Regions from separate parts of the Homo sapiens genome. Here region 2 is linked to region 1. Evidence: fine-mapped expression QTL. A gene starts in region 1. The other region holds a variant in brackets. All regions are shown on one strand. Distances are from middle to middle.

Region 1 (2,911 bases):
CCCTCAGCCTCTCACCCAAGGTTCCCATGACCTATTTGCCTGCTCTTCTTCCCTTTCATGCCCGGCAACCTTCAGCTCGCTCAAGGCTGATCCTGAGGTTTCCCAAGGCAGGCTTCACTTGCTTTAGTCTCCCGCAGCCCCTCCATCCTATCAATCCCTCAATCTCCGACTTCTGTGTTTTTCACTGGATACCCTGTCTACATCCCACTCTCTTCACCTTTTTCAAGCATCACAGACAAGAAATCCTTGGGGAAGTGGATGGGAATCTGGAGATGGTGTCTCAGGAGCTTTAAGTCATTTGCCATGTATAGTCCTTTGCGGGGAAGCAGACCTGGAGGCTTGTTTCCTGCCAGGAGAAGGTTGGGCACGCTAAGTGAGAAAAGACCTAAGGGTCCCAGGTTTGGGGACCTCGACGTGGGTTTTGGGCAGAGGGCAGCTTCCTTTTTTTTCTCTTGTTGTTTCGCTCTTGTTGCCCAGGCTGGAGTGCAATGGTGCGATCTCAGCTCACCGCAACCTCCGCCTCCTGGGTTCAAGCGATTCTCCCGCCTCAGCCTCCCGAGTAGCTGTGGTATACAGGCATGCACTACCACGCCCGGCTAATTTTGTATTTTTAGTAGAGACGGGGCAGAGGGCAGCTTTCTGGCTGCCAGTGCCAATATAAGGACCCGCTGGGGTCGGCTCTCTTGGGCCACTGAGATCACCCCTGCCCCGACCCTCCCTTCCTACCACTGTCTTTCATGATCCCTGTTATGAGGCTGGGCCGCAACTGCAGGTTGATGTTCCAGATATTCTGATACCGGCACAGGATCTGCGGGCAGAGGTCAAGAACGATTGCCAGTGTGCAAGATGGAAAAGTGAAAGAGCCGAGGGAAAGGGAAGGGAGGCGCTAAGTGCAGAGCAGGGGTTATGCGGACACCCTACATTGTTTGGTTTGAAATTGGCAAAACTCTCCTCACTACTAGAAATCTATTCCAGGATCTTCGCTCCTGTGGCCAGTTTTCCCCAAAACTGCCATCGTTGGGCTAAGAGGTGGCCGTGTTCTGCATTTCTCCCTGAATGTTTGGAGCCGCCCCTCTTTCCACCACCGTGGGAAACTGCAGTCGGGATATAAAGGCTCGGGTTGGAGCCAGCGACTCTATTCCGTTTAAAAGCACAAAGTGACCTTCAGCCCCGGAGCTCTCCCTGCTTGCCTTAACCCCTTGGGCGGCGCCAGGAGTTACACGAGACCTCTGTCCCGGAGCCCTGCGCTCACTCTTCCCTCCGCCCTCACTCCCCAGACACTGCCGAGGCGACCCCTCCCAGCGTCACCTCGAAGCCCAGCCAGGAGTAGGGGGACAGCACGTCATAGAAGAGCTCCACGGTGCGCGGCAGGGGCCCCATGCTGCAGGCTCCGGAAGAGCAGTGGCAGCAGGAGCTCCTTTTCCCGGAACCCGGCAGAGGCTGCCCAGCTTCTGGGCCTGCCTGGGACCGCCCACCGCCTTAGCGCGCAGCCTCAGAGAGAAACTGCCCTGGTAGAGGTCCACCTCCGGCGCAGCGGGGCAGGGCCAGCCTACGGCCCCCAGCCAGGGGCGGGGTGGGTAGGGACCCCTTGGGGAGCGCGCAGGTGTGGACAAGGGGCGCTGCAATCGCCTTTGCAAAAATTTTAACAGTGAGAAAATTACGAAGGTGAAACAGATCTGAACTCACCAACTCCATCGTGCCTTTAACCTCCAAACTGCCCTTGGTCATTCCTGAGCATGGGACGAGCTAATATAGGGAGAAATTTAGTTTATAGTTTAAATGATAATAGCCCTTCCCCAAACTAAACCAGTTTTATAAAACTAATAAAAGTCCACAAGTTTAGGATTATGAGAGGGGCCTGAATTCTGCTAAGATGTAGGCATTAACAATTACCAGACATTGTTCCAGAGGTCACAAGCTCTGCAACTTCCCCAATTATTCCTGTAAATAACCACTTTTGTAGAACCTAAGACTGGCCTTTGAAGATACCTTCTCAGACTTTTCCATTTCTAATGACAGGATGACTCCACCTGGACCAGTGACTCCTCTGTGGCCCGCATCCAAATGCAACTCGGTGCACTGAGGACGGTTTTCCACACCCCTGTGATTGCATCCCCAACCAATTAGCAGCACCCATTCTCTAGCCCCTTGCCCATCAAACTATCATTAAAAAACTCTAGCCGGCGGGCATGGTGGCTCACGCCTGTAATCCCAGCACTTTGGGAGGCTGAGGTGGGTGGATCACTTGAGGTCAGGAGTTCAAGACCACTCTGGCCCACATGGTGAAACCCTGTCTCTACTAAAAATGCAAAAATTAGCCGGGCATGGTGGCATGTGCCTGTAATCCCAGTTACTCGGGGGGCTGAGTCAGGAGAATTGCTTGAATCCGGGAGGCAGAGGTTGCAGTGAGCCGAGATCATGCCACTGCACTCCAGCCTGGGTGACATAGCAAGACTCCCTCTCAAAAGAAAAACAAAAACAAAAACAAAAAAACCCACAAAGTCCCCTAGCCTCTGCCTCCGAATTTTGGGAGGCTAATTTGAGTAATAATAAAACTCTGGTCTCCTGTTTAGCTGGCTCTATGTGTATTAAACTCTTTCTCTATTGCAATTCCCTTGTCTTGATAAATTAGCCCCATCTGGGTAATGGGCAAGATGAACCCATTGGGCTGGTGTCAGGGTGACTGTCCTGCTCTGCAGTGGAGTCTTGTGGGAAGGGGGTAGTTTGAGATGCCTGCAGTGCCTTTCACTTAGCTGTGCCCCTTGGGTGAGCCACTTGACCTCTCTGAACCTATTTCCTCATCCTGCATACACATGGGGAATATCTAATGATAACACCTGCCTTATGACGAGTTGTGAGGAATGAGGTACTCCAATAACTGCTAGCTCTTATTATTGTTGCTTGGCAGTTG
Region 2 (2,911 bases), 44 kb after region 1:
ATGCACAAAAAATCTATCTTCTCTTGAAAAATTAGAAGATTTGGCAGTATTGGGTCTTCATAGTGAACTGGCTGAAGCTGAGTAATGGCTGCCCATTTTAAACAAGGTATATACTTTTCAGTTTGTTGACAATACTAATTCCTAGTGTCTTCTTGACACAGAAGCTGAGTGCCAGTTATCATTTTCCAGTGTGCTTACCCTGTTATTTTTATTTGATTATTTTTCTTTTTGAGACTGGGTCTCACTCTATCACCCAGGCTGGAGTGCAGTGGTGTAATCATGGCTCACTGCAGCCTTGACCTCCATAGCTCAGGTGATCCCCACACTTCAGCCACCTGAGTAGCTGGGACTACAGATGCATGCCAACACACCTGGCTAAGTTTTGTATTTTTTGTAGAGACAGAGTTTCGCCATGTTGGCTAGGCTGATCTTGAATTCTTGGGCTCAAGCAATCCTCCCATCTCAGCCTCCGAAAATACTGGGACTATAGGTGTGAGCTACCATCCTTCACACCTTGGTCCATTATATTTTGGGCCTTGGTCCATTATATTTTTTAATAATATAAATTGATGAATGATAAAAATGGGTTTCCCCACCCCAAATTAATTTTATTTAAAATAAGGAAGTTGGCTGGGCGCAGTGGCTCATGCCCGCAATCCTAGCACTTTGGGAGGCTGAGGAGGAGGATTGCTTGAGCTCAGGGGTTTGAGGTCAGGCTGGGCAACATAGTGAAACCCCTTCTCTACCAAAAATACAAAAAATTATCTGGGCATGGTGGCATGCACCTGTGGTCTCAACTACTCGAGAGGCTGAGGTGGGAGGATCCTTGAGCCTGGGAGGCGGAGGTCTCAGTGAGCTGAGATGGAGCTACTGCACTCCAGCCTGGGTGACAGAGCCAGACCGTGTCTCAAAAATAAATAAATTAATTAAATAAGGAAGTAGAGATTTATTATTTGTATAGAAATAAGCACCAGGCAAAGCAATATATTTCAAAATTAAGAAAGCATTATTTAGGGAAATTAAAACTTATGTCAACACGGAGATTTGTACAAAAATGCTCACAGCAGCTTTATTCATAATAGTCAGAACTGGAAACGAGATTTGTTGGCAGGTTCTGCATCTCCTGTAAGAGACTCATTAACTTTGGTTAGTTCTCTTAATTGAGGACAGTAGTATTTGTCAGCAGCTTTCA[C/T]GTATTCCAAAGCATCAAACTCACTTTTTGGTTTATTTTGTCCCAACATATGCAAGTTTGTAATAAATGATATCTCCCCAAATTTCTGGCACACAATCGTTGACTTCCATTGTTCTGGTACTGTTTTCTATTGGTCTTCATTCATGTTTTTCTCTGATTTTAAGAGGTGGGAACAGAAGGAGATCTTGGGCAGGGTCTGCCTGCAGCCCCAGAGGCTCAGGCAAGAGGAGCAGGGAGGGGATCAGCCATTGGGGTGTGGGACTATTGCTGAGGCTCAATGCAAGCTGGCAGTCTGGGCTGACAACTCCAAGGCACTCACAGTGCCACATTTATAGCTATGTGGGGCCAATTCATTTTTATTCCATATTTTATCATTTGGAGAGCTAGAATGGAGGCATCATCTCTACTTTAGAGAAGTTCTTTTTTTATTTTTATTTTTGGAGACAGGGTCTTGCTCTGTCACCCAGGCTGCAGTGCAGTGGCACGATCTCAGCTCACTGAAACTTCCCCCTCCCAGGTTCAAGCGATTCTCATGTCTCAGCCTCCCAAGTAGCTGGGATTACAGGTGTGTGCCACCATGCCTGGCTTATTTTTGTATTTTTAGTAGAGACGGGGTTTCACCGTGTTGGTCAGGCTGGCCTTGAACTCCTGGCCTCATGTGATCCACCTGTCTTGCCCTCCCGTAGTGCTGGGATTACAGGCGTGAGCTACTGCACCCGGCCTGCTTTAGAGAAGTTCTCATGGGGGTCTTCAAGGAACAAAAGTTTCAAATTCTTGGCTACGAAGTTTAAAAGCTTTGGTCCAGGCATAGGATAGAACAGATTGGAAGAATACACCTATTCTTCCAATGTTTCCAGGGAAACATTTTTCTTTCACATCTCTCTCCATCACTACCATGTAGACTAGAAAATGCTTTCCCAGTTGGAGAGGAATGAAAGAAGAGGAGGCAGGAAAGAGCTAGAGAAGGTAAGGATCTCTTTTGAAGGGGTCCCACATCTTGGCCCACTGCTCATGGCTGCATGGGGGTGTCAAAGGCAGACAGGCTGCAAGAGGGCCCCTGAGTCCCCTGCAGCCTGTCCACACTTGGGAGAGCTGTTCAACCTTCCTTGTGTTCACAGAAGGAGTTTGGAAATCTGCTAAGGGAGTTATCGGATTCCATGGGGTCTAGTGGCCATATCAAGGAGACTTTACAAGCATGAGATCAAAGTGTGGACACGTGAATTGACATCAACGTAAGGACAGGAATGACCACAGTATAGACTCTACATCCCACCTTCATGCCAAATCTTTGAGTGACTCCCAAGGAGCATAGGTGTCCTTCATGGAAGACAAGAAGGAGAAAGGAGAAGGGATAAACACAACATGTTTCTCCCCCTCCAGTTTCAGTGCCCCATTCTGTGCTTCCCATCCAATTGTAATGTCTTGGGCAGGTTCCAAATGTTCGTCTTCTTTTGGTTATTAATACTCAGTCCAGTTTAATTTCATATTTGGTTTAAGTATTATCTTCTGCCTTTCCCCAAGCACAGTTTCAGCTGACACCCCATCTGCTAGGACTGGGAGGAGACAAGGTGGACCCTGAGACACCCGTCTCTCCCTCTTCAGTTTTTGGCTAGTGTATGAGAGAGAGGACAGGCAGAAGAGTCTCTTTATTTCCCTGGCTGCTGTTGTAAATGCACTCTTTTGTGCTGCTGCTGCTCCCCTGGCCAACACCATCTGGCC

Evidence for each region. PIP is the estimated chance that this variant, and not a neighbour inherited with it, causes the effect.
Region 2: its variant is fine-mapped to the expression of GSTK1 in whole blood (INTERVAL, PIP 0.99).

The regions. Positions count from the first base shown.
Region 1 is chr7:143,261,983-143,264,893 of GRCh38, reverse strand. It overlaps GSTK1 (glutathione S-transferase kappa 1), which reads right to left and starts at 1,453. Exons shown (of 8, transcript NM_015917.3): 1 at 1,309-1,453; 2 at 727-808; 3 at 218-346. The coding sequence starts at 1,380. All of the region lies in intron 2 of TMEM139-AS1 (TMEM139 antisense RNA 1), which reads left to right. LOC105375546 (a long non-coding RNA gene) reads right to left here. Exons shown (of 3, transcript XR_007060569.1): 3 at 1,687-1,746. RefSeq lists enhancers at 1,206-1,425, 1,244-1,538 and a silencer at 1,566-1,635.
Region 2 is chr7:143,218,033-143,220,943 of GRCh38, reverse strand. No RefSeq gene overlaps it. Among named protein-coding and RNA genes, the nearest start is that of TAS2R40, 2.5 kb to the left of the region's middle. The variant C/T (reference allele first, on the strand shown) is at 1,193.